Linked DNA regions of Homo sapiens: region 1 is linked to region 2. A link means that fine-mapping ties the variant in region 2 to the expression of a gene that starts in the linked region. Tissue or cell type: whole blood. Region 2 holds a variant in brackets; the other region holds the start of a gene. All regions are shown on one strand. Distances are from middle to middle. Region 1 holds the start of HPS1 (HPS1 biogenesis of lysosomal organelles complex 3 subunit 1). Region 2 overlaps HPSE2 (heparanase 2 (inactive)).

Region 1 (12,760 bases), 16 kb before region 2:
GAAGGGACCCAGGTCTTGGCCTAGACATGGAGCCGAATGCCCAGGGAGGCCATGCTCACGGCAGCCAGTTAGTGCCTGGTGTGGATCGGAGGGCACTGGTGCACCTCCATCTCTGGGCAGTCCAGAGATATCTCTCCCTCAGATAAAAACAGTTCCAGGGCTGGGCGCGGTGGCTCACGCCTGTAATCCCAGCACTTTGGGAGGCCAAGGGGGGTGGATCACCTGAAGTCAGGAGTTCGAGACCAGCCTGGCCAACATGGTGAAACCCCGTCTCTACTAAAAATACAAAAATTAGCCAGGCATGGTGGCAAGTGCCTGTTATCCCAGCTACTCGGGATAACTGCTGAGGCAGGAGAATTGCTTGAACCCGGGAGGCAGAGGTTGCAGTGAGCCGAGATTACACCACTGCACTCCAGCCTGGGTGACAGAGCGAGACTCTGTCTGAAAAAACAAACAAACAAACAAACAAACAAACAAAAAACAGCTCCAGAAGATGAGCCTCAAAGCCCCTGAATTTACTTCAGCACCACAGAAGTTTCATTCAAATGCTGCTCTCCCTGTTCATGGTGAGAACAGAGGCTGCCTAAAGCCCCTGTACCTAGTAGGCTGCAGCTTCTAGGGCCACAGCCACCAGTGTCTTCAGCCCTCCCAAATCTCCTTCCCCACCCCCCCGCCACACACACACACACCACACACTCTGTGCTTGATTATGTAAGAAATGTCTTAACTATTCACCCACTGGAAGATCTTTAATACAGCTTCCCACACTGTGTGCCATGGCCCTCTGCGTGCGGCAAACCCTCGATCTTCTAAAACTTGGGGCAGCCTGACCAGGCTGGTGAGGACAGTGCTCCAGGCTGGCTGCTGCAGCTAAGAGGCCTCAGGCAGTGGTTTCAAATCCTCTTATGTGCCTCAGGGTGTCACGCAGATATAATCATGTGGTATGTGCGCTAAGCCATGACAATGATTAGGAAGCTCTGCTGTAACTCTCACACAAGTGGATTTCCAGTTTTCTTGGGAGGATCACAGCATCTCCAGGTCTTGTGTTCCGTCATCCCCATGTCCAGCTTAGTGGTCCTTACTGAATTCCTCCCAAACTAACTTGGTGCAACTGGTCCCAAGGTATTTATGGCAAATGCCAGGAGACATAACAGCACAGTGAAGAAGGAATGCAGCCTATTCCCACAGAATTACTCAATGCCAAGGCAGACACTGAGAGTGCAACAGGTGTGAAAAGGAGGTTGCTGGGAGAGGCGGGTGGACCTGAAGAGGCTGCTCTGGGACTCCCAGGTACATGTGACAAAGCTGACCAGAGTGTATGGGTTAGGGAGCAGTGGGCTATGGAATGGAGGCTGTGGTTGTGAGCGGAGAAGTGACCGGCTGGCTGGAGATGGGCAGGTCAAGGTCATGAAGGCGGTCATCTAGGTGCGGGTGTCAGGTAATGAGTGCTCACCCCTTGGTGGGGGCTGGGAGGAGCTTTAAAGATGCAGCAGGCTGTGATGACCTGCCTGGATTCGAGGGGTGAAGGAGAGATGAGGCATCAGGATGGGGGTGGCCTCAGGATGCAGGGCTGGGGAGGGGATGAGCAGGTGTGCAGAGCCCAGTAGCACTCAGTCCACTGCCTACCTCATTCCATCTGCCTCCCAAAGCCCCAGGGTGGATGCTGCCTGCCTCCCTGTCCTCCCCAGGTGGGGCAAGATCATCTACCTTGGCAAGCACAGTGGAGCATCCAGACGGCCAGAGGTTCAGAAAGGGCTGCAGCAGACCGACTCGGTGACTGGCTCATGGGAGAGCAGCACAGCATCCCTGGTCCTGCAAATGCTTAAAACAGAGAGAATATGAGGGCAGGCAGATGCCCTGGTCTTGACTGCTGCCCGTTGAGAAAGGACAAGCTGGAGAAGGGCTGCGTGGTCCCTGGTCTCTCCAGGCCCTGAGGCAGTCTGCTAAGAACATATCTGGGATCCTGCCCCTCACCTCCCATAATGGAGAATAGGAACCCGGCCAGCACAGCCCTTTGCACAGAGCAGGTGCCCACTTTTGTTCCTTCCTCCTTTGTTCCCATGAAGTGCTCTCACTTCTGCGGGTCACTCAGAGCTCCCCAAGCAGCCCCAGGGAGCTTGCTAGGAGTGACTGACGGGAGACAGCATAGCACATCCCAGGTGGTGAGGATGCAGTCCCGGTGAAGGGAGTGGGGATCCTGGGATGATACGATGAATGGAAGGAAACTAACAGGAAAGGCATCTGGGACCAGGTTCTAGTTTTGGCTTTGCCAAGTCCCATAAACCTCTCTGAGCCTCAAACTCCTGCGGAGAAACAGAGCAACATCCCCTACTCTACCTCCCTACAGGGTTAGATCATGGGAGTGACCAGGCAAGCTGCAAAGTAACCTTAGCAAACTGCGTTCTTACATAGGTGTGGGGATCATTATTCCTATTTCCCAGCTTCCCTTCTTCAAATAACAGGATTAATCAATCTGGTTCCGGAATCATTCATATTTGAATAGAGGGCAGGAACAACAGAAAACTTAATTAGGAAGTCAAGCACTGTGAGCCAGTAAGAGGCAAGTGACTACCCGCCACAGAGACTGCTGTTACGAGTTCGGCCTTTAGCAGCCGAACCCTGAGACGGGCTCCATCACCCACATGATTGGCCCGAATGCCATATTCCCGAAACAGGGGGATGCTTCCCAAAGGCTGCTGGGAAGAGAACCTCGCCGGTGTCACACTGAGACTTCCGCTTCACCTCGCTATCTTGCCCTAGAAAGGGAACTCGGAGGGGACTCACTGACGAAAGGAGCTCCAGATGGCGGGGGGCCAACCTGGGGCGACCCCCAGCGCCCACTTTCACCATCTGGACCCCAGCAAACCTCCCTGTGGCCCTTGGTCCCGTCTTCAGCAGCTCCTTCTGGGGTCCCACACCTTCGGAGCCCGGCCCTGCCCCTGAGTCTCTGGAGAGAGCGAGTCAGCAGTTCGCCGCCGCGGGGCTCCCGTTTGCCTAGCACGCCAGTTTCTGTCCAGTTTCACCCCAAATCCCCACCTCCCCCCACCCCCGAACCTCACGGCCACCCTGGGAAGGAGGCTTGACTTGTGACATCCACCCCTCTTCACGGCTGAGGAACTTTGGCCCCGAGCGAGGAAGCGACCGGCCCACGGCCACACGCCCGGAGTGGGTGAGGCTAGGAGTGGGCCCGCTCCGGGACCCCTAGGGACCCTACCTCACTTCCGGGAGGGTTGAAGGGGGGCTCCGGAGGGAGGATCGCCGCCCCCAGAGGGGACAGCCCGGAGGCCCACGTACCGGATCGCGGCGCGCACAGCGCCCCGCCTGCAGGAGCCCGGGCGCGCTTCCGGGTAGGACCGCGTGATCGCGCACGTGACCGCCCGCCCCGGGAGGGGCCGGAGCCGCCGTCGCCTTCCGCGGGTTCGAGCCCCGCCCCTGCCAGGCCTTGCCCATGCCCCATTTTACAGAAGAGGAAACGGAGGCGCAGAGAGAAGAAATAACTTGCTGAGGGTCCGAACCAGGCTCAGAACCCAGGTTTCCTGGCTCCTCAGCTGATCCCTTCTCTCCTCCCCATGCCCCGGAACCTCAGGCTTTGCCTAATGAACTGAAGTTCTGGGGCTAGAGCTGTCCTTTTGTGACTGCTCTCCCTGACCTTTGGGGAGGTGACATAGCGCACAGAAGGGCTCAGTTGCCCCCAGAGTGCCAACGCTGGAATTTATAGGAGTTCTCAATCTATTTTGGGAGTGGAGTGCACATTAGGAGTTTTGTGTTGAACCTATGTTTGCAATATTTATTTTAAAAAATCGTATGTGTATTGGGGGTGCCTGGAAGTGGAGGGGGCGCTCTGGAAGGGCCTAAATCCCCGAACAGTCCACCCCTCAGTGCCTGGGTGCCACCTGGGAGCTTTGAGCCCAGCCCAGCAAGGTATGGGTTGCAAGAACTGGCTGGGGATATAGTAGATTGAGCATCTCTTGGGGGAAAGGCAGAGGCTAAGAATCAATACTTCCACCACCTGCAGATCAAAGAGAGCATCACTCCCCCCAACCCACTACCCACCCCTTCCAGCCCACCTTAGGGCAAATTCTTCCAACTCCCCATCTACAGCACATAGCCCTGCCACACGCATCTCTTTGCTCAGCCCACCGTTGAGATCGTTCACTCACTATGCTTTCAGTGGTCGAATGAATTCCATCAAATGGATATGCTGTTATTTACTTATTCATTCCCCTACTGGTAATTTCCATTTCCCAACTGCAATGTATGAGGATTCTGATTTCTCCACATCCTCACCAATGCTTGTTATTGTTGATTTTTTTTTTTTTAAGTATAGTAACCCAGCGTGGAGTGGTGTCTTGTGATTTTATTTGCACTTCCCTGACGTTCGGCATCTTTTCATGTGCTTTTTGCCTATTTGTGTACCTTCTCTGGAGAAATGTCTATTCAAATCCTTTATCCATTTTTAAATTGTCTTTATTATTGAGTTGTAAGAGTTCTTTATATGCTCTGGTTACAAGCCCCTTATCAGATACTTGATTTGCAAAAGTTTTTTTCCCATTATGTGGCTTGTCTTTTCACTTTCTTAGTGGTATCATTTGTAGCACCAAAGTTTTACATTTTTATGTAATCCAATATAATCTATTTTTTAGTTATGTACGGGTTTTTTGTGTCAACATGTTTCTTTTTTTCAAATTTGTTTGTGGTAAAATACATATAATGTAAAATTGATCATTAAGCATTTTAAGTGTATTGTTCAGTGGTATTAACTACATTCCTAATGCTATGCAGCCATCACCACCATCCATCTCCACAGCTCTTTTCATCTTTTAAAACTGAAACTATATCCATTAAGCAATAATGCTGGCCGGGTGTGGTGGCTCACACCTGTAATCCCAACACTTTGGGAGGTCAAGGCGGGCGGATCACAAAGTCAGGAGTTTGAGGTCACCCTAGCCAACATGGTGAAACCCTGTCTCTACTAAAAATACAAAATTAGCAGGGTGTGGTGGCACACAGCTGTAGTCCCAGTGACTCAGGAGGCTGAGTCAGGAGAATTGCTGGTACCAAGGAGGCAGAGGTTGCAGTGAGCCAAGATCATGCCACTGCACTCCAGCCTGGGCAACGGAGCGAGACTCCCATCTCAAAAACAACAACAAAAACAACAACAACAACAATTCTTCATTCCTCCTCATAGCAACCACAATGTTACTTTCTGTCTCTATGAATTTGACTACTCTAAGTACCTCATATAAGTAGAATCATACAGTATTTGTCTTTTTATGACTGGCTTATTTCACTTAGCATAATATTCTCAAGGTGCATTCATGTTGTAGCATATGTGAGAATTCCTTCCTTTTTTCTTTATTTTTAAGCCTAAATAATACTCTATAGTCTGTATATACTACATTTTGCTTATCCATTTATCTGCTGATGGACAATTGGGTTACATCCATTGTGAATAAGGCCATTATGAACATGAGTGTACAAATATCTCTTTGAGACTCTGCTTTCAATTCTTTTGGGCATATACCCAGAAGAGAAACTGCTAGATCATATGGTAATTCTATTTTTAATTTTTTAAGGAACTACCATACTGTTTTCCACAGCAGCTGCATCATTTTACATTCCCAACCTGGAACAAGTGTTCCAGTTTACCCACATCTTTGTCAACACTTGCTATTTTCTATTTTCTTTAAAATTTTTATAGTAGCCATCCTAATGGGTGTGAGGTAGTTCAACATAAGTTTATATTTCTCTTAGGTAAATATCTACTCATGGGATTGCTGGGCTGTATGGTAAGTCTGTGTTTAAATTTATATTAAACTGCTGAACCATTTTCCAAAGTGGATGTACCATTTTACATTCCTTCTAGCAACACTGAGAGGTGTAATTGCTCTGTAGTCTTGTTAGCACTTGATATTGTCCTATTTTAACTTTAGCCATTCTAGTAGGTATGTGGTAGTATGTTAAGTGTTCAAATTTTGCCTATTTAAAAATTGGATTGTTTGTCTTATTATTTATTTATGTGTTTGAATTCAAGCCCTTTATTATATTTTTTTTTCCCAGTCTGTGGCTTTGTCTTTTCATTTTCTTTACAGTGACTTTTGAAGAGCAGAAATCTTTGTGCATTTTGTGTCCTATGTAAAGTCTCTGCTTAGCCAGGGTCACAGAGATTTTCTCCTGTTTTTTCTTTTTTGCAGAAATTTAATAGTCGTAGATTTTGTCTTTAGGTTCACAATCCATTTTGAGTTAATTTTTGTGTGTGATGTGAAAGAAGGTTGAGGTTTTAGTCTTTTGTGTGTGTGTGTGTGTGTGTGTGTGTGTGTGTTTTGTATATAGATGTCCAATTTTTCTAGAACCATTTGTTGAAAAAAAATATTTTCTCAGCCAGGCGTGGTGGCTCATGCCTGTAATCCCAGCACTTTGGGAGGCTCAGGAGGGCAGATCATCTGAGGTCAGGAATTGGAGACTAGCCTGGCCAACATGGTGAAACCCCATTTCTAGTAAAAATACAAAAAAATAAATTAGCTGGGCGTGGTGGCATGCACCTGTAATCCCAGCTACTCAGGAGGCTGAGGCAGGAGAATCGCTTGAACCCAGGAGGCAGAGGTTGCAGTGAGCCAAGATCGTGCCATTGCACTCCGGCTTGGGCAACAGGAGTGAAACTCCATCTCAAATAAATAAATCAATCAATCTTTTCTCCATTGGATTAATTATCATGGCACGTTGTCTCAAATCAGTTGACCATCTGTGTGTGAATCTATTTTTGGAGTCTATGTTCAATAAATTTAAAAGGAGTTTATTGATTTTCTTAGAGGCAGTTTTTGGTTGAATCAATTTTTATTGATCCTGTTTTTAAATTCATCAGTTTCTGTTCTGATAGTTACTATTTCGTGTCTTCTGTTTACTTTGGGTTTTTTTTTCTTCTAGAAACAGAGGCCACTGATTTGAGACCTTTTGTCTTTTCTAATGGAGTTGAGTGCTGTAGATCTTCCCCAAGGTCCTGCTTTATCAGCATCCCACAACTTTTTATCTGCCATGTTTTCATTTTCAATTACTTTAAAATGCTAATTTTTCTTTTGATTTATTTAGAGTATAGTTCAGAGGTCAGCCAGATATTTGAGTGTACTTTGTACCAGCTTTTTAAGTTTCTCCCACCTGTTCCCTTTCCCTCTCCATTCAATTTTCAGCTGCTCTGGCAGTCTTGAACACCAATGTCACTCCACGGTCTAATATAATAGCTGCTTGCTGATGGACCTTGCTCTTTGTTGTGAACTAGGGGAATTCCTTCAGGAGAAAAGCCAAATAAATGTGGATATCACCCAGTGTGATTTTCTTCATTCAAGAGCTATATCTCCTGCAGTTTCTGCCTGCTCTTAGCTGTTCTGCATTGCCTTCAAAGAATTGTTTTTTCAAATTTTGTCTAAGGTTCGTAATTGTTATTGGCAAAAGGGTCAGTCTGATACAACTGTAACATTACCAGAAATTGGAAGTTCTTTCTGCATATTTTTATATGTAGTCTTTTCCATTTAGTTTAAAATATTTTCTTTTTATTGTGATTTCTGATTTTTTTCTCATGGAATATTAAGAAGTGTGTTTCTTAATTTTCAAGCACAGGGAGATTTTCTAGTTTTCTATCTCTCTATCTATCTATCTATCTATCTATCTATCTATCTATCTATCATCTATCTATAATTTCCACTTATATTCCACTGCTGTCAGAAATACATTGTATGTTATTATTCTTTGAAGTTTTTTGAAACTTTATGTCACAGTATATAACCACGTTTTATAAATATTTCGATGTGTTGTTGAAAAAGGACTTTATTCATTTGTTGTTGTAATGTTCTCCATATATCATTTAGATAAAATGTTAATTGTATTGTTTAAATCTTTTCTATTCTTTCTGATTTTTGTCTGCCTTTTCTCTCATTTTCTGAGAGAAATAGCAGTTAAAAATCTATTATAATTGCAAATTTTTCTATTTCTCCTTTTATTTCTGTTAGATTTTTGCTTCACATATAGGAGATGTCATTAGGTACATGCAGATTTATAATTATATATCTTACTGTTAAATCAAAACTTTCATCTTTATGAAATGTCCCTATCACTAGCAATGCTTTTTGGTTTTACAAAAGCATTTATTGTCTCATATAAACATAAGGACATCACCTTTTGTTGCATGGCATATCTTTTTCTTACTCCTTTTAATTTCTTATATTTTAGATATTTCTTTTGAAATAGCTTTTAATTGAACTTTCTTTTATCTTATCTGACAACCTTCATCTTTTAATCGGAGCATTTATTCCATTTACATTTAGTGCCATTACAAATAAATTTGGTTTTAAATCTATTATCTTGCTAGTTGCTTTCTGTTTGTCCTGTTCTTCATTATCTTTGTCTTCTTTCTTGCTTTCTGTTAGATGAAGCGTTTTTGTTATGATTCCACTGCCTCTCCATTCACTTAAAGAATATACTCTTTTAAGTATTCTTTCAGTGGTTACCATAGAGACTAAAACATGCATCCTTGACTTATCAAAGTTTAATGTAAATTAGTAGTTTTACCTCTTTCTTGAAAATGTAAGGATGTTAATATATCTTCCATTTACCAGCTTTCAATATGTATGGTATTATTGTAATGCATTTTTAATTATTTACCTATTTTAAATTGCAAGAGACATTGTTATTATTAGATTATATTTATTTAGAGTTTCCCACATAATTACCCTTCACGTTGCTTTTTATTCTTTCCTGCATCTCTCATTGCATTATTTTGATTGTTCATTCTTTCTCTCCCTGTCTGTCTTCATCTTTCCTTTCACTGTCTCCTCCAATTTTCTCAGCCTCCCACCACCCATGCACTTGTAGACATAGTTGAGTTCCAAGACATTAGGTGCATACGTGGTGAAATTCTACTATAATACATTTCAGTTGCTGCTGGAGCAACCCCACGTACTTGTCTTAAAGTTCAATTTAACTAATTTCTCCTATGTGAGGTCAATCTTTTCCTTTTAAAAACCTAACAAGGTGGGTATGCCTTGGGGCATGCTTAGTCTGCATTAAATATGCACTAAATCACGGCTTGGAAGAAACTGGGGTGGCAAGAGTCAAGTAATTAACTCAAAAATAAAATCAGGACACTATCCCTGAGGGTGAGAGGATCTTCAAAACGTGTTATCTGTGTTGAATTTCATGTGCATGCATTCTAGAAGGCACGTTGCATTTAGGTAGAAATAGCAACAATTTAAAGCTAACTTTGAAACTTCTCAAAAGGATGTTATCTAATATATAAGCTAACATGAGGAGGAAATAGAAAAACAATAGCACTTGGACCAGAGACCATCTGACATAACATCAGACAACAGGGAGTTTCAGGTAAACTTAGATTTCACTTAAATCCAAAGTCCTCATTTTATAGATGAGAACACTGAGGTCCAGAGAGGCTGAGTGACTTGTCTTCTGAGGTGGATAAAATCAGTGGAATAGCCTGTTGTGATCTCCAGGTGTGACTGTTCATTGGGTCTAGAGTTGGCCTCTATGATTCTCTAGTTACCTTTTAACCCACTTTGCTATTTGAGGTTTCAAATTATATTTTTGATGTTTCTGGTACAGGGGGCAGCATCTTCTACTATGTGCATCTACATTGGATGGCAGTGGAGCAACACAGATTGTTTTCTGACAAAAATCAGCCAAGTACTAGGAGAGGCAGGACTTTAGAAGTGGAGGAGATGGAGAAGGAAGCTTAGGTTACTATGGAGTGTGCAAAAAGGTCCTGTGGATTTAGATACCACCACACACAAATGGTATGTAATACTCACTTGAAGACAAATCAGCCAGAGGGATCTAACAGCATTGACCCATTCTCTGGTCTTCTAGCATCCATCATAGTTTTGTGCTCCTTTTCCATGAAACACAGCTGTTGTTGGAAGGTACCTGCCCAGATAAGGACTGCATTTCCTCTAGCATCCAGATGGGACCAAATGACTGCTGGCCAATAGAAGTGAGTGGAAAGGACTGACTCCAGTTCCAGGTTGGGCCTCCAACTGCTCTGGGCACGTCGATGGAACAGAACACCACCTCCACCCCAATACCACCAATTCAACTTTACATGAATTATAAGCGAGAAATAACTTGGACTGTGTTAAGTCATTGAGTTTCTGGGGTTTAACTGTTATTATAGTTAAGAATGACTTTAACTAATATAGTCAATGACATCTAACTGGAGTTATGAAATTCAATTTCTACTTAGAGTAATTGAAGCAAAGGTTGTGGGGGAGGGGAGGAGGGCAGCACACCATGAAATCAGAGATCCCCAGTACGTGTTAGTTCATCAGTCAATCAGTCTTAAGGTCAGGGTGTAGTGTGGGCAGCAGTTGCCTCCCTCTCCCCACAGAACACCCTGAGAATAGGAAGTTAGAGTAGTCGCATCTTATTACTTACAAAACATTACCTCAAAATGCAAACTACCCCCTGGACCCAAACTCTCTACAATCACCAGGTTCCATAAACTATAATCTACTCTGTTTTCTGGAAGAAAATATTAACCTGTTAAAATTCCCTGCACAGAGAGGAAACTTTTTCTGGGAGGTATTCCTGAACTCATTTTGCCAACTTCCAGATGAACAAAACTAAAGTTTCTTTTTGCTTCTTCCAAAAACATAAATTATCAAATAACATTTATAACTTGAAAAAGAATCCTAGAATATTTTCATGAATAATAATTAGAAGAGTAATGTTCACATGGGAAGGGCGTCTTTTCTCTGCTGTGTGCATAGGACCCTGGGACCCTGGGATTTAAGTCATATGGAACTTGGTCAACTCCTCCAAAATGCTCCCAGCGCTCACAGGGGCTGCCTTGGTGTTTGGAAGGAGGTGGTGCCAAAGCAGTTGGTTTGCTGGATTTTGACTTTCTTTTTTTAAAGTGGTATTTGCAAATACTACCCCGAGGGCAATGGTTAATGGATTTGACCTTTGGGTCATGGGGGCCAGGGAGCAGCACTCATAGAAGCTGTGTGTGTGTGTGTTGCGGGGCGGGGGCGGGCTGCTGACTGGCTCTGCCACTCACCTCTCAGGCCTTAGGAATACTGAAGATTCTCACCTACGATTGGTGGCGATGGTGGGAGTGGTCCTTAAAACTGCTTTATAGAAAATCATAGTGGAGGCCAGGCGCCGTGGCTCATGCCTGTAATCCCAGCACTTCGGGAGGCCGAGATGGGCGGACCACGAGGTCAGGAGATCAAGACCATCCTGGCTAACACGGTGAAACCCCGTCTCTACTAAAAATACAAAAAAATTAGCCGGGTGTGGTGGCTGACGCCTGTAGTCCCAGCTACTCTGAAGGCTGAGGCAGGAGAATGGCGTGAACCCAGGAGGCGGAGCTTGCAGTGAGCCGAGATCGTGCCACTGCACTCCAACCTGGGCGACAGAAGGAGACTCCGTCTCAAAAAAAAAAAAAAAAGAAAGAAAAAGAAAAAAGAAAATCATAGCGGAACAGACCAGGATGACCACTGATCGGCCAAGGTGAACCTGGACTCAAAGTTCTACAGCAAAGGCTGTCCACAACACTACTTACTACTCACTACTCACAAGAGCTTCTAGTTGGCATCCTCAAACCAGAGAGCAGTTGTACTGGGGGTAAGGCACTGCTAGGGTTCTCTGTAGGACACACATGAGATGTTAAGGAATCTAGCTGTGGGCAATACAGAGATGAGAAATAGGTGGCTACAATCAGTCAGGTGAGAGGTAGCACAGTGTAGGGATAGCAGGCTTTGAAATTTTTAACAGACCTGGGTTCAACTCCTAGTTTTGCCACACTGTTTTTCTGGGTGGTCTTGAACAAGTTCTTTCTCTAATCCTCCCCATCTATAATTGGGTCTGAACACTTACCATACCACCCAGCACTGCTGTGAGCATTCAATAAAATAGCACGTCTGATAAGAAGAAGGCACTTGATCAAGGAAGGGCAGCCACAGAAGCCTTCGTGCCATGGTTAGTGGAACTCAGAGAGAAGGGTTCTGTATGTCCCAGTTGTTTGGGCCTTATAATAATAATAAAATTCATTTTAGCACTATCTCTCTTTGGAGTACTTCTTATCTGCTTTTCAATCCTGGTATATCCTAAGAAAAGATTACAAACAATTCTAAAATGGAAACTTCACTTCAATACAGCAGATTTCCCTGGGCTCCTGGCTGGGCACAGAGTGGCTGGCAGAGGGGAGTCTGTGGACGTGGAGAGTAAGTTGGTGGAAACGAGCACTCAGCAGGGGCCAGGCTGGGGCAGTTGTGCCGATGCTGGAGAGAGGAGAAGTGGAGGAAGCCATGCTAGGTAAAGTTTATGCCCTTTCTTCTCTTGCCTTTTCCAAGCCACAGCACTATTAATTTTGGTTGCTCTATTGATATTTCAAAATGTTAGTCTTCCCTTCCCCTTGTGTTTTTATCGTCAGAGGGATCCACCTGGTTCACCTTTGCTTCTGCAGAGACTCAACACTGCCCTTTTGTTTTCAAACATAAAGCTACTCTCAATGGATTTCCAAGGTGAATCCTGCAGCTGCATCCATCCCAGACACTGGGGCCTTGAGTGCCTGTGGAGCACACCTGCAGATGCTGGGCCTCGCCATGACCACCAGAGGCTAAGTGGTTAGCACACGAGTCCTCACTGCCAGGGGGCCACAGAGACTCCCAGTGCTGACAGCAGGTGGGAGCCTCTTCAGGCAGCATCCACCAGCAACCTCTGCCCTGCTGGAGAGTGCAAGGCTTTGAGCCCACCT
Region 2 (15,687 bases):
TTTGCAGACTTGGCCCAAATCCTTAACTCCGTGTGCGTCTTAGGCAGCCTCCCTAGTCTCTGCCCTAGGCAACCCTGCCTTGCCCCCGCCCCATTCCTGTCCTTTCACAAACAGCAGAAATTGTATCACCGTCTCACTTGGAACAGTGTCAAATCTCTCCTCCTTCTAACAAAAGCATCATTCCTGTCATTTATCCTGAGAAAGAAAATCACATCCACAGAAAAGAAAGTCATTTCAGCTGTAGCTCATTGGCAAAGACCCTCATGCCCCTTGAATCATATAGAACGTCCTCATCCCCCACTTCACACCTGCCCAACTCAGAAGCTTCCTACCTACCATTCCATAGTTTTGGCCAGATCTTCATTCTCTAGATTCCCTATTCTCTCCCAAAATGGCTAACAAAGTTTTGTTCTAGCTCAAATAGGCTACTTGGGAAGAGGCAAAAAGGTTAGATTCAGTTGTGTCTTCCAGTGATGACCTTGATTCACACTTTTTTCTTCTTTTTTAAAAATAATGATTTGAGTTAACCAAACAATTAAGGGCTTACCCTATAGAGCCCCTAATATTCTCTTAATTTTGGAGAGGTCTAATTTGCTTTGTCCAGTTGGGGTGTGTGTGTGTACCTGATGTTTCAGTATGCTTTCTCTTTGTACTCAAACTCTCCCTCATAGCAACATGAAGAATGATGACTACTTTTTGTTGTGCCTAATAAACTGCTCTCCACTCAATGAATATTGTTACTTGACTCCCATTACAACTCTGGGGGAATCTGGATTCACAGAGGAATAGAACCTTCTTACCAAATCTGGAGTGTGATTGTAATTTTACTTTTGAAGCACCCGCTTCCCAGAAGAACTGCCAGTGATGGATGCCACTGTCAGGAACCCAGATGCGCACGCTCATACATCAGCCGGGAAATCATACAAACAGCTCTCCCAGCAGGCCAGGGCTGACACACCCATTACTCCCCTATGGAAAGAGATGTGTCAAAAAACTCAGGGCAGCAGCAAGAAAGAGGCAGAGAAGAAGGAGTTGGGAGAGGATGGGTTTTTGTAGGTCCACCCAGTTTTTTTCCTTCCTCATCTTCCTCTGAGGGCAGCAGCAGCAGCAGGCTAAGGTTTGGATTTGTGGTTATAATGCTGTGTGACAGGATCATGGGGAGTTGTCTGGAAACATTTCTCCTGGGAGTGTGCTGTCAGCTCGTTTTCATAGTGCACATGAAGGGAAACATTCTGCTCTATACACATGCCTTTATCCTTATATAGGTACAGGTGATGTCTACATTTTCCTTTGGGATGGATGTGGCCTACCTAGGCTAAGATCACGCTATGACATTTAGTCTCTTTGGAGAGCAAGTCTGTGTTGATTCCAGCAGGATGGGGCAGCAGGGGCTGGTTGCTAGGATGTCTGAAAACAGAGGATACTACTGGAGTGGAGGAGTGGAAGCAGCCCAGCAGGCCCACTGGTAGCCGTGAGTGTGAGGATAGCTTATCGGTAGCGGCAGGCCAAAGCATTGACATTCTTGACCACATAAAAGCCCATGGTGACTGGAGGGATGACCAATGTCCGGCCGGCCCGAAGGGGGCGGGGCTTCAATTCTGGGAGGGTCCCGTCGTCCACCATCACTAAGGGCTGGCCATTCAGTTGCACTGACCTACAGTGAGGAAAAACAGTATGGGACTCATTATTGCATTATAAGGGAGCCACTGCAACAAAGCCTAGCCCCAGATGGCCTGGCAGTGTCTGATACACACACACAGCTGACACTTATTGTTACTGGCTATGCCCTAGATTCTGACCTAGGTGCTTTACTTTAATAACTCATTCAAACATCCCAACAACCCCCCCACTCCCCTGAGGTAAGTAACTATTAATATCATTATCCCCATTTTATCTAGAGTGGCTAGGTGACTTGTCCCAAGTCACACAGCTTGGAGGTCCAGGGTTTGAACCCAGGTAGTCTACCTCCATAGACACATTTAGACAAGTGAAAAGTCTGTGATGCAGAAGCTGGAATGTTTCATTCCTATTTTTTAAAAATCACAATATCAGCTCAGTTTGACTTTTCCACCTAAAGAGTTTTTACCTGTGGAATGATACATGGGCTTAAGATGACTTCAGAAATCTATTTAACTCATATCTCATTAATTTACTTGACAGATTAGATAACTGACATTACCTTGCTTGTCTAAGGTTATACGGAAGGGAGACAGAGACATAGGTAACACCTCTACTTTTTCTAATTTAAGAATGAGTTTTGGCTGGGTGCAGTGGCTCATGCCTATAATCTCAGCATTTTGGGAGGCTGAAGAGGGAGGATCGCTTGAGTCCAGGAGTTTGAGACTAGCCTGAGCAACATAGCGAGACCCCATTTCTACAAACAATATAAAAGCAAAATTAGCCTGGCATGGTGGCTACTCAGGAGTTTGAAGTGGGAAGATCACTTGAGCCTGGGAGGTTGAGGCTGCAGTGAGCCAAGATTACACCACTATACTCCATCCTGGGTGACAGAGAAACTCTGTCCCTAAAAAAAACAAAAAATGAGTTTTCATATTTAATATTAACAGATGTTTCCATTTAGCAAAACAGCAAAGTAAGTGATAAAGTAGGCATTTGTGATCACAATTCATCTATCTTGCTTTTATCCTTTCTGTATAGCCAGCCACTTTCACCCTGAGAAGGGGGACTACATACATAGCAAACTTAGAAAAGAGAAACAGCTCATCTTATGCTGGATAGAGGGAAATGCCACCTATCCTTGACCTATGGTACCAGAATCCAGATAATGTTCCAGCTGTTCCTGACAGCCATGCACCCAGGTGGAAGCTTAGTTTTATGGGTCAGCAGAAAAGGCCAGAAACAGGCCACCAGCTGGAAATAAGGTTGTGAGTCACCCTCAGAAAATCAACATTGCATAGTGATGACTGTTTCTGGGCCTTGCCCAACCTCCAGTGTGATAACATTGCCGTGACATCATCTGAGCTGTAAAGAGAATAGAATGTTATAAATTGATATAGAGGTCTTTGTTTAGTGTTCCTTCTGTGCTATGAATGATAGACTGCTTTAGAGAGAGATAATCAGACCCATGCCCAATAGAGCAGTGAATTCCCAGAGATAAGTGTGTTGTAAATTGCTCCCAATGGAGAGCTAGGCAGAGAAGAGATCCAGGCCTGGCCCCACATGGGTAAGTTTGGGCTAGGTCCAGATCTGATAGGCCAGAGGGAGCAGGCCCCCTCCCTTTGCTAGAATGACTGAGTGAATAAGTGAGTAGGAGGCTTCTATATGGAGAGCGAGGCCTGCCTCTGGAAGGCATGGGGTGGGAGAATTGAGATCTGAAGGTCAGTGTTGACCGCATCAGATATGCAAGGAGCTTTTGCTTCCAAATATGAGAAGTGACCCTCTGTAGTGAAGACAGCCTACTCATTGGAGTGGAAGGCAGGGTGAGGAGAGTGGTTCAGTTACAAAAGAAGCCCAGATGGGTCTTCACAGTGTATTTTCATTATTTTGTTTCAGGTGCTATGAATATCTATCACCCAGATATAAGCACAGTCAAACACGAGTTCAATAATACCGATTAATCTTTCTAAGGCATACTCAAATTTATATCAGGTCTCTGCTAGAAAACCTTCAATGGTTTCTCCCATATACAGAATTAGGTGCAAACCTTTCTTCTGAAGAATTAGGTAATGCCCTTTTAGATTCAGATGATCCCACAGTATTGACATCTTTGGGTTCTGGGGAGTGCAAAACAACGTGTGATTAGCAAACCTTTAAAAATCTATACTAATAAGGAGTAGTTGTCCTGGAACAGGCCCTATTCTGGTTTCTTTATTGGTTGGTTAAAAAGCTAAGAGTAGAACCAGGAAGCATGGTGAAGATTCTCTACTGAAATCTCGAATTCCAGGAGCCAAGTTGCTAACTAGCTAGATGGCTTTGGCAAATCCCCTAACCTCACTGCCCTGTAGCTTTTGCATCTGTAAGAACGTTATATAGGCACCAAAGAAATGAAATAAGAAATATGAAAGTGCTTTGAAAGCATAATGAACCATATACTTAAGATATGGTGTTTTTGTTGTTGTTGTTCTTTTTATTTTTATTTATTTATTTTTTTGAGATGGAGTCTCGATCTGTTGCCCAGGCTGCAGTGCAGTGGTGCATTCTTGGCTCACTGCAACCTCTGCCTCCTGGGTTCAAATGATTCTCCTGCCTCATCCTCCCGAGTAGCTGGGACTACAGGCATGTGCCACCACACCTGGCTAATTTTCGTATTTTTAGTAGAGACGGGGTTTCACCATGTTGGCCAGGCTGGTCTCGAACTCCTGACCTCAAGCGATCCACCTGCCTTGGCCTCCCAAAATGCTGGGATTACAGGCATGAGCCACCGTGTCTGACCTGTTGTTGCTATTGTTTTTAATGTCACTGTGGACAGATGCACTTGTTGGTCCTTATCATACCTGACTGCTCTGTGGTACTCACATTTTCAGGTCTCCATTCTCAAAACCCTCTCTCCCCTTGGCTCCCATGATATTTCTCTCTGTTTTCCTCCATTTCTGGATGGCGTTTTGTTTTCGTTTTTGTTTTTGTTTTTTTGAGAGGGAGCCATTCCCCTCTGCCTGCTTCTCAGATGCTAGGGTTCCTAGTGTTTTGTCCCTGGACTCTTCTGTCCCCACACTCTGCACTCCTCCCAGGTTGCTGCTGCTCTCACCCTTGACTTCGGTCACTATCCACAAGCTGATGCTCCCTAAGCTTGTATCTCTACCCTACCTACATTCTTTCTATGAACTTCTGTATCTCCACTTGGCTGTCCACAGGAATTTCAAAGTCACTAGGTCCAAATTCAAAATCTTCTCCTCAAACTCTGTCCTTATCTCTGCTTTTTTTTTTTTTTTATCTTTGTGATGGTACCGCCATTTATCCAATTACTGTACCCAGAAAGCTTGGAGTCTTCTGAGACTTCTCCCCCAATTCCCTTGTGTAGGGTAGCCAAGTCAAAATAATTCGACCTTATAGTGTTTTTCAAATCTGCTCCTTTTCCTCCATCCACTGCTATCTTTTTAGTTCAGAACTTGCCTCCTAACCTATCTCTGTGCCACATTGCTGACAGTTATCTGTTGTCACTGCACCGCTTCAAACTTGCCAACACTCCCCTTCCCTTACACTTTATTGTGAACAATGACACCCAGCTCCAGCTACCTCTCCAGTCTCAGATCCCGCCAGTCCCCCCTCCAACGCTCACTGTGGATCGCAGACCTCTGGGAGTGGGCATTGGTAGGGGGTTGCCAGTTATTGTAAGAATTTCATTAATATATGCATACACAAAGATGACGAATGAAAAAATAATGTCTTTCACAGAGATGAGGTAAATATTTCTCAATGAAAATGTAAGTAGATATTGTTGGGATTGAAATACACAAGTTAATTCAAAAGTATAGTAGGCTGGGTGTGGTGGCTCATGCCTGTAATCCCAGCACTTTGGGAGGCTGAGGCAGGAGGATCACTTGAGTCCAGGAATTTGAGACCAGCCTGGGCAACATAGTGAGACCCCCATCTCTACAAAAAAATAAACAAAATTAGATGGGTGTGGTGGCACATGCCTGTAGTCCCAACTACTTGGGAGGCTGAGGTGGGAGGATTGCTTGAGCCCAGGACATTGAGACTGCAGTAAGCTGAGACTGTGCCACTACACACCAGTCTGGGTGACACAGTGAGACCCTGTCTCCAAAATAACAAAAAGGTAGAAAACATTTTTCAGGCCGAGTGCGGTGGTTCACGCCTGTAATCCCAGCACTTTGGGAGGCCAAGGTGGGTGGATCACGAGGTCAGGAGTTTGAGACCAGCCAGACCAACATGGTGAAACCCTGTCTCTACTAAAAATACAAAAATTAGCCAGGTGTGGTGGCGCACACCTGTAATCCCAGCTACTCAGGAGGCTGATGCAGAAGAATTGCTTGAATCCGGGATGCAGAGGTTGCAGTGAGCCAGACTGCACCACTGCACTCCAGCCTGGGCAACAGTGCGAGACTCTGTCTCAAAAAAACACAAAAAAAGAAAGAAAATATTTTTCAAAAGTAAATGCTAGTCAGCAGTTTTGGGATTAAAACATAAGTTCATTTAAAACTGTTCTTCAATTCCCAATAGATTTTTTTTGGGGGAGGGAGGTATCATGTACTTTTTAAGGAATAGATTTTGAAAGGACAATTACTATAATGTGGAAGACCGTGACATTTGTTGACATTTAAAAGGAACCCACATGCTTGAAGAGGCCAAGCCCCCGTGCCCTAGCATGACCAAATAAAATGACTTGCAGTTTTGCTTCCGAGTCATATCATTCTGTGCGGTGCTCCCTCCAGCTGTCTTCCTCTGCCAGACTAACTGCAATGGATCCTTGCAGCGTCTGTGTAGGTGTTGCCTCCTCTGGAGAACCTTCTCTGACCCCTAGGTTGGGTTTGGAGCCCCACTTCTGGACTCTCTTAGCACCCAAAGTTATTTCTAACTGTGGCCCTTATTGTAGTGAGTTACTTGTTTGATCCCTCACTGGGCTATGAATCCTCAATGCCTAAAGAGGTGCTTGGCACAGAGTAGGGGCTAAATATTTTCTGAGCAAGTGAATGGGCTTTTGAGGCTCTTTTGCATTATTTCTGATCTTCCTGGATTGAGTTTCTCCAGCTCTAAAGAGGCTCCCTGGAGGTTTGCTGAGTGTGTTTACAGATTTCATTAATGCGCCAATTACTATTGCTCTTGTTGGCTTGTGGAGATGTTAGATAAGATCTGAATTATCACTGATTCTCTCAGCCACTCACTAGATACCTCATTCCAACCTGACATAAGACCATTGATCATTGCTAGTGTTTTCCATCCTTAAAAAAGATCTATGCGACCATCTCTTAGCTAAGTGAGCATAAGTTAATTTTGTGAATAAGGTTTTGTGAGACCTTGAGTCCTCATACATCCTTATCCACAAAGTCCCTTCATTATAAAGATGGGCCATGTGCTTTATCACTTCCATTCTATTCTTCCTGCCTATATTTTTCTTTTAATATTTATCTTGTTACCCAGCAGTCATATCATGCTAAATATAACAATAATCTTTCATTTAGATACATTGAACAGCTTGTAAGCTTGTAAACATAATCACATTAATGATAAAATTCACCAATTATGCAGCACTATTTATGCAAAAGGCACTATGCTATGATTTATTTTGACTATCTCATTTAGTCCTTACAACAATTGAGGCAGGTGTTAGCATTCCTGTATTACAGATGAGCAAATCAAAGTTTAGAGGGGTCTAAAACTCACCTAAGCCATACAGCCAATGAGTGGTAGAGCTGAGATTTGCACTGACGCCCTTAACCATAGCCCTATCTGGCCTCCCTTGTCACATGTGATTGCTAAAGAGCCCCAGGAGATACATAGGCCAGTATTACTATTATTGTAACTTTACTATGGGGACAAGGTTAGACAGGTTAAGTGGTCTGGGCAAGGTCATGTGGCTAATAAGTGGCTAAGCTAGGTCTCAAATTCTGGCTTCCTGACCACCTCTTTCTACTATTTCATGTTGTTTCTCCAATTCCAGCTGGTGTTCACCAGGATTATGTTTCTTTCTTTGAAAACCGTCCTTATCATATTTTCATCATATTCTGAGACCTCCTAAATGGCTCGTGACTTTTTAAATCAAATGCTGAATGATCCAGCCTAGGTTGAACTATTTCTCTTAATTCCCTAGCTTGCCTGAACTGCTGAGGGTATTTAAATTATCCAAATATTAGGACAACTGCATTTTATCACCATCTGTTTTTACAAAGTCTGAGTTATTTTCCAATCCCTACACTTGTTTTATTAATTTTGAATGTTATTTAAAATGGGATTCAAAGTGTCAGTTTGGAGTCAAGCCCTCTGCTCCCCAGGTCTCCATGGGAGCCCCTTGGCCTGGTCACTCCCCCGCTACCCTCCGCCCACCTGTCTACAGTCTCTGGTCTTCATGTCTTATCACTGTTCTCGATAGCCATGGATATTTAAGCAAGGTTTCAACTGTTCTGAGGTGTCAGGGAAGTAAGTCAGGGAGCATGTCCTTTTTAAAGCTTGAAGATAATTTTCTGGACTACAGTCTGGCAAGAGGGGATCTTTAGTGGGGAATTATGTGTTTTATCAGGAGCAGCCTTGGGAGCTGGTGTGTAGTTCAGGCTGGCATAGCATATTTTGGGGCCTTGAGTGGGAGGTGAAGGGACTTAAAGAAAATTGGTTCTGGCCAGGTGCGGTGGCTCACGCCTGTAATCCCAGCACTTTGGGAGGCCGAGGCAGGCGGATCACAAAGTCAGGAGTTCGAGACCAGCCTGGTCAACATGGTGAAACCCTGGCTCTACTAAAAATACAAAAATTAACGGGCGTGGTGGTAGGTGCCTGTAATCCCAGCTACTCAGGAGGCTGAGGCAGGAGAATCGCTTGAACTCGGGAGGTGGAGGTTGCAGTGAGCCGAGATTGCACCACTGCACTCCAGCATAGGTGACAGAGTGAGACTCCGTCTCAAAAAAAAAAAAAAAAAGAAAAGAAAATCAGTTCTGCCTCACCCACCTTCAGAACATTTGCCTTCTCTGAGACTAGTTTCTCCATCTGTAAGGTGAGGGGTGATAGATCAGATGAACCCTAAGATCCCTTCTGGCTTAACCGTTTTTCAGTTGGGTTGCCTATGACTAACAGCTAGCCTAAGGCAAAGTTTTATGCCAAGCCCAGAGTGATCCTGCATAAACAGAAATCTGACCATGATATTGACCTGTCTAAATATTCAGTGGCTTCCCGCTGATCTTAGAACATTGTCTGAAGTCCCCATGCACAGGCCCTATTATCTACTTCTCCAA[C/T]CGCCAAGAGGCTCACTCTAGCTCCCGCCCCTTCCAGCTCCCTTCCACCCCCACCTCCTTTCATTCTTTACGGCCATTTATCTAATCGCGGCCTAAGCACAGGGGTTTTGCACACGGTTTCCTTCTACCCGGACCTTTCTCCATATGCCCTCCTCCTCCCTTCCAGCTTCCTTCTCCTGGCTAACTCTTACTTGTCCTTCAAGTCAGGGGTGCTCCCACAGGACCCAGTACTTCTTGGATCTCAGCTCCTGTCACACAGTATTGTGACCGCTGAGCTGACTGCTTGTCAGTCTCTCCACTAGATTGGAAGCCCATGTGTCTTACTCATCCGTCACTCTTCTGTCCGCCCACTCACACAGGAGGCGTCAATAAAAGACACATTGGATATAAACACGTGGGCAAAAGAACTACTACCTAGAAGGAAAGACTCTGGACAGGAAGGCCAGAAACCCGTTTTAGTCCAGGCTTGGGACATGAAATGTGCAGGTCTAGGTATGTGACCAGCCGCTTCTGGTCTCAGTTTCTGGATTGTTAAATGATGAGAGAGAGGGAGAGAGGGAAGGGGGAGAGAAAGGAGGAGGGGCAGGGGAGAGATAAGTCCGACTGTGTGTTTGTATGGGCCTGCGCTTGAGTTATCAGCTCCCTTTCCTCCAGTGTGCTTTCCTAGGGGCCACTAGAGGTCACTCTTGTCCTACACAATGGTGCCAGGACAGTCTGACTTCGGGGTGGCACCCAGGAAGCCGGAATGCGTCCGCCTGCCTCCAAATCCCGCACTCCAGTCTCAGGAAGGCCGGGAGATGTGCCCTGCGCTTGGCCTCCCGGAGGAACAAATCACAGAATCAATCAAATCCCAACCAGAACTTCGTTGCGGTCCCGTTGGCAAGGGTCCCACCTGGAATGTGGCCTAATATTAAGGAAACGTGCGAAACGGGACTGCAATTCCTGCAGGGGTGCCGGCTTCCCGGCCAGCGTGCAGAGAACGGGGGGTCCCAGGGCAGGTGCGGGGTCTGCGGCGCCCGCCACGACTCGGCGCTGGGCTCTCCCGGGCTCCGGGTCCCCGGCTGCCCCCGGCCGCCAGTCGGGTCGGCCCCGCACCTGTTTGTGCTTTGCAGGCTCCCGGCCCCCTCGCTGAGCGAGGAAGCTGGTATGTGCAGCTGCCCTGCCCTTCTCCAGGTCAGGGGCAGGTTAGAGTCCCGAGGAGGCCCAGTCAGGTTTGAGGACAGAGGGGCTTTGCTTCCCTTTCCTGCTCGGTGGGGAGACGGTGCATCTGGGGCAGCTTGAACAGGAAGTTCGTCTGAAATTGCCTTGAGTGATGGCTACCACGCTGAGGAAGGCTGCTCAGAAGTGGCCCCTGCAGGTGGTGTCGCCTGGTACCCCATGTCCGGCTGGAGGAAAGGCTCTAAGACCGTCATGACCCTCTCTGGGGTGCTCCCACTCCTCAGGAGTCACGGGGGCAATTACTTCAAGTGTGTCCTGAACTTTTCTTCTATGTGCTTTTTGCTCTACCTGGAATCCGGTGGAATCTCTCAAAAGCCTGTTCTTCCCTCCAGGCCCTGTCAGAGGTAGCCTCCTGCTTGGGACCTCACCTGATAACAAGCTGGGAGAGCGGCACATTATCTGCATCTCCCTTTTAGCGTCCCTCTCAGGCTTATTTTATCTGTGTGCTTGGGTCATTTTGTCTGCTACTGACTTTTCATTTCTCAATTTTCAATAGTATGCGGCTCAGTGCCTTTTTGTCCATGATAGCTGTTTAGTTAATACTTGTTGAGTTCTGCTCAATCAACTGCTCTAGGAGTCATGCCTGGCTGTATGTTCCAATCTCTTCCTCTACTGTTGTTAACAGAGAGGACTGTAAGGGATAGAGAGAGAAAATGGGGAAAATAGTATCCTGTTCCCTTGCCCTTCCAACAGCCCATACCCTATTTGGAGTTCCTTGTCCCTAAGACATTTTGAGGCTGAGAAGTTTATTTGCCCTCCATCCTACCCTCTGAGGGACACGCTGAAATGGTGAGCAGTTTTGATCTAGCTTCTGTATCACTGACCAGAGAAAATACCAGGACCCTTTATACAAGGAGAGCTGGGGGTTTTGTAGGCAAGTTGTTAGGGATATAGGCTTTTCCTGGATGTAGTGTGGTTTGGGGGTCAGGATTTGATCTGTATTCTATCCAAGTCTGTGTAATAGTGATCCAATCCATAATGGACTCTACCATGTGCTTCTAATGGCTTAAAATAATTTAGCACACTTGGCAGACAAGATGAGAGCCTGACTAAGGAACCTGGATTTATACTGATATTGTTAACTCCCAGCAGATGAGGGAATCATCTGGGGGAAGTTTGGAAAGAAAATCTGATCCTGCAGCCATCTCAAAGCTCCATGTCATAGGCATATCACACTCAAACCACAGGACACAATAGGAACCAGCTATAAAAACCATGGAGACTTCAGCATGTGGTTAACTATGTCCCCCTACCACTGTAAAGAATTGGTGCCATCATCATCAACATTTACAAGTAGTGTTTAAGGGGCATTATTCATAGTTCCATCGTTCTTTTCATTGTACCAATTAAATTACAATAGACTTACTCCTTGTCTTCTAAGAAAACACTGAAATATGCAAATGTCTGAGCAGACACACCATATAAAGATATTACACAAAGAGCAGGAAGGGAGGAAAATCAGACTTAGCCTGGATTTCAAGGCCTTCTGCAGTCTGGGCTTATTATGTGTTTGTGGCCTTTCCCTTTGCCCCACAAAGCATCCTGTATTCCAGTCACATGAGATGATTTGCCACCTCCCAAACAAAATGAGCCTTGAACTTCTGTACTTCCAAACCCTTAGTGATCTCATCCTGTTGCTGGAAGTTGCCTTTCCTACAGCCTTTCCTAGAAGTATGGCACATCCTTCCAGCTCCAGCTCCACGGCCTTCAGCCCTGAGACTTTTCAGATTCCCAAGTCAGAATTCATCTCTCTCTTTCTCATAATCCCATCTCCTATATTTACCCTTAGGTGGTCTGTTTTGTCTCTGAGTTACGGTAGCCTCTGTGGAGAGGGACCAGGTTTCCCCAGTCCTAATTGTGTGGAGCTGGAGGAGAGAATGTGGGGCTACAAAGCATCCCCTTTACAGCAGTCTACAGGTGGAGTGAAGACAGGTAGGAAGGCAGGTGTGTGTGTGTGTGTGTGTGTGTATGCACACATGTTAACACACGTTTTAAACATAACATGTTTAGTTATGTTTAACACACATGTTAAGGTGATAAATACCTGTTTTATTAACTTTTGACAAAGTATTCCCCATGACATCAGGTGTACTGGTATAATCTCAAAAGGGAAAAAAGATGTCTCAGGTGGTACAGGCTCTGTTCCAGATCCCACAGATATCCAAGTGCAAAGTGTGGGGTGACTCTGAATCATTGTTGCAAGGGTAAGCAGGGAAGGCTAGTCTGCACGGGTATTGCTGGTGTTTGGCAGTGGGTCCACAGTTTAATGCTCCAGGCCCCTTGTCTGGAATGAGCCCACATCCTGCCCTGGGCTTCCTGATGCTTAGCAGCCAAAGAAACACCAATTCAGGGCCCAGGCCCCACTATAGGGATAAGCTGGATTAGAACTTTCAGTTCCTTAAGGCTTACATTTCTTCATCACAGCCTCTGGAAGGTGCAGGGGAAGAAGAAGACGAGGGCCATTTCTTCTCAGTCAGCCAGAACTGCCCACATATTCTGCTGCTCTCTCACTTTAGAATCAACTGTTTAGAAATATGTTAGCTCTACCCTAACTTGCCCATTTACAGGTGTTTCGTCTAGGTCATCTGGGACAGAATGGAAATCCCTGCCTACAACGAGGGTCCCTAAGTGAGTGGAGGTGAAGAGGGGATACCACAGCCTTAATGGACAGCTACGCAGAGAGTTTCCAGCTGCTGGGAGTGAACTGGAGGAAAATATATTCTGGATCTGAGAACAAACAAAAAACTCTCGGAAAATAACAGTGAAAAGCCTAGATTCCTAAACATCTTGGTTTAAAATGTCAAGTCGCTGTAAAACATAAAAGCATTTCATAATCCTCTAATCGGCACAGTGATCTCCACATTAGTAATCTGGGAGTTAAAACAAAACAAACAATAAAACCTTTGAGAAGCCAGCACTCATCCTTCCACTCAGTCACAGAGAACTCCCAGGGGCTCATGGCATGTTCACACCTTTGGCAAAATGGCATAGCGCCTGAATGAAGAATCTAATCTGGGAAAAATCGAAGATACAAATCATCTGGGATCTTGTTCTAGAAGTTTATAGTGGGACAGTGGTTCTCAACCTTGACCACATATTTGAATCACCTGGGGAGCTTTAACAAATACTGGTGCCTTGGTCCCAACCCAAAGATTTTGGTTTAATTGGCTGGGGTGTGGCTTGGGCATTGGGGTTTCTAAAGCTCCCCAGGTAGTTGGAAGTGCAGCCAAGGTTGAACACCACGGGTAGAAGAAGGGGCGGGGATATGTTTGTAGCTGGGGGTGGAGGGGACTCAGATATCTTTCTAACTGTTACATTCTGAATTTATTTCGAATAAAAAGAGATTTTCTTACTTTTTGAGTGCCATGTCAGGAGGCTACATTTTTTTTTAACCTAAAAGGAAGATATGAACTTTCCAAAGACAAGTTTTTTGCTCCATAGACTGAAGGGAGCATTTTTGCTGTTTCACTGGAACTGCTTCGCTGGATGTCTTGCCCCCTCCCGCTTGTACCTTGGTGGGATGATTATGCTCCTCGGTGTGTACCAGGGATGTTCATGTGTAGCACTTTACAGGATGACTTAGGAAACAAATCAGATGAAGCATCAGCGCTGATAGCCAACTCTGTGTTTCTTGAACACTGAAAAGAACAACTTTTTTCTTTTCTTGAAAGTCAGTTTCTATAAAATCATTCAGATTTCTCTCAAGTTCTAGACTGTGTTGCAGAGAGCTCCTTATAGACAAAGAGTGGTTCAAATTCTCTTCAGGCAAGAGGAACTAAGGGAATGAAGAATGTGTCATTCAGTATCCTCACTGTTGTTTTCAGGTATGTATATACTTATTTATGTAGCTAACATTGGTTATAGCTACTATCTCTTAAATTAGCAGAAGGGCTAAAAGAATCCAAACTCCTCTGGGTTTCAATGAGTAAGCTTGCATTAACAAGATTTGTGAGGCTCATTTCTCTACATATTTACTTCTCTTTCTTTTTTTCTATATACTGCCTCAGAACCTTAAGTATAAGTATTTTTATAAATATATATATATACTCTTACATATATATTTATATTTCCGCTTTTTACAGTGTCTATTTCGGCCTTTCTGAACTGGGGCACTAACCTGAATGCTAGTGTTTAGAGTAAGTACCACTTTCCTGTTAACTCACAGCCAGCTCGTAAATCTCCCTGATCCCAGGCACTTTCTTGCCATTCGGTGCTCTCAGCCTCTGCAGCTTGTCTTTCCTGCTGAGGGGCTCTGAATGGCCTTTCAAAAGGGCTGCAGCTGATGTGGTTGATCTGCACCAGGGGGGCCTTTTGCTCCAGGTCAAAGATGTCTGATTCTAAGTCTTGCTTTGTAAAAAATTATCCTATTTTTTCCTGATATTTTAACATCTGAAGCCCTGCAGGGGTTAACAGCTTTCCTCACATGGTCTTAGCCTGAACGTTATAGGCACTGAGGCTCCTTACCTTTCACCATGCATCAAAACAGATTCCGAGTGAATCAAAGAAATGAATACAAGTGAAACAAAAAAGAATCTGGAAGAAAATAAAGATGCATATTGATCTGATTTCAAGAATGTAAATTCATACACATATAAGTAGAATGGAAGAAAGGTAAACATATTTAACTATATAAAAGGGAATATTTCTGTATGTCAAGATAATACTCTAATAGTTAGAAAAATAGCAAATAAAATACTAGAGAAAATATTTCAATACATAGATAGCAATGGAGGAAATTGCCTTATACCTGTATTAGAGCAAACTTAATAAAACAGACTAATACCCCAACAGAAAAATAGCAAAGGACATAGAAAATTCATAAAAGCAATACAATACTAACATATGAAAAATCTTCAGGCTCATTAATGCTCAAAGAATAGAAATTAACATAAGAATACTTTTTTTATTATGGAGTTGGCAAAGATGTAAAAAATGTTACTATATTGTGTTAGTGAGGTGAATTGTAATAACAAAATGTTCATATTTCCTCCTCCATCTCAGACCTCTTCAACTAAGTTTGGATGAGGTAAGAAAATTGAAAGGTGGTCAGGCGCGGTGGCTCATGTCTATAGTCCTAGCACTCTGGGAGGCCGAGATGGGTGGATCACCTGAGGTCAGGAGTTTGAGACCAGCCTGACCAACATGGTGAAACCCCGTCTCTACTAAAAATACAAAAATTAGCCAGTTTTGGTGACACGCACCTGTAGTCCCAGCTACTCAGGAGGCTGAGGCAGGAGAATCCCTTGAACCAGGGAGGTGGAGGTTGCAGTGAGCCGAGATTGCACCACTGCGCTCCAGCCTGGGTGACAGAGTGAGACTCTGTCTCAAAAAAAAAAAAAAAAAAAAGAAGGCAGAAAAAGAGAAAGAGAGAGAGAGAAAGAAAGAAAGAGAGGAAGAGAAAATTGAAAGGTTAATCCTGTGAGATAAAATTCTAAAACTCAGTGGATTCTAAGGTGAGCAATCTGAACACCAGGTCATTTGAGGAATGGTTGAAGGATCTGAGAGTGTTTAGCTTGGAGACTAGAGCTTTTAGGGTAGATATATAGAAAAATTGATAAAGAAGAAGATATAGATTTTCTCTTCTTACTTTTTCCAAAGCAAGAGTAGAAAGGGC

What was found. PIP is the estimated chance that this variant, and not a neighbour inherited with it, causes the effect.
Region 1: HPS1 starts here. The variant in region 2 is fine-mapped to the expression of HPS1 in whole blood (INTERVAL, PIP above 0.99).

The regions. Positions count from the first base shown.
Region 1 is chr10:98,443,593-98,456,352 of GRCh38, forward strand. It overlaps HPS1 (HPS1 biogenesis of lysosomal organelles complex 3 subunit 1), which reads right to left and starts at 3,343. Exons shown (of 20, transcript NM_000195.5): 1 at 3,215-3,343; 2 at 1,708-1,812. It overlaps HPS1-AS1 (HPS1 antisense RNA 1), which reads left to right and starts at 2,729. Exons shown (of 3, transcript NR_134454.1): 1 at 2,729-3,165; 2 at 9,607-9,797; 3 at 9,911-10,213. RefSeq lists a silencer at 3,161-3,510 and enhancers at 9,756-10,257, 12,148-12,687.
Region 2 is chr10:98,458,086-98,473,772 of GRCh38, forward strand. It overlaps HPSE2 (heparanase 2 (inactive)), which reads right to left. Exons shown (of 12, transcript NM_021828.5): 12 at 1-1,654. The coding sequence ends at 1,489. Among named protein-coding and RNA genes, the nearest start is that of HPS1, 19 kb to the left of the region's middle. RefSeq lists silencers at 9,762-9,811, 9,862-9,961. The variant C/T (reference allele first, on the strand shown) is at 8,856.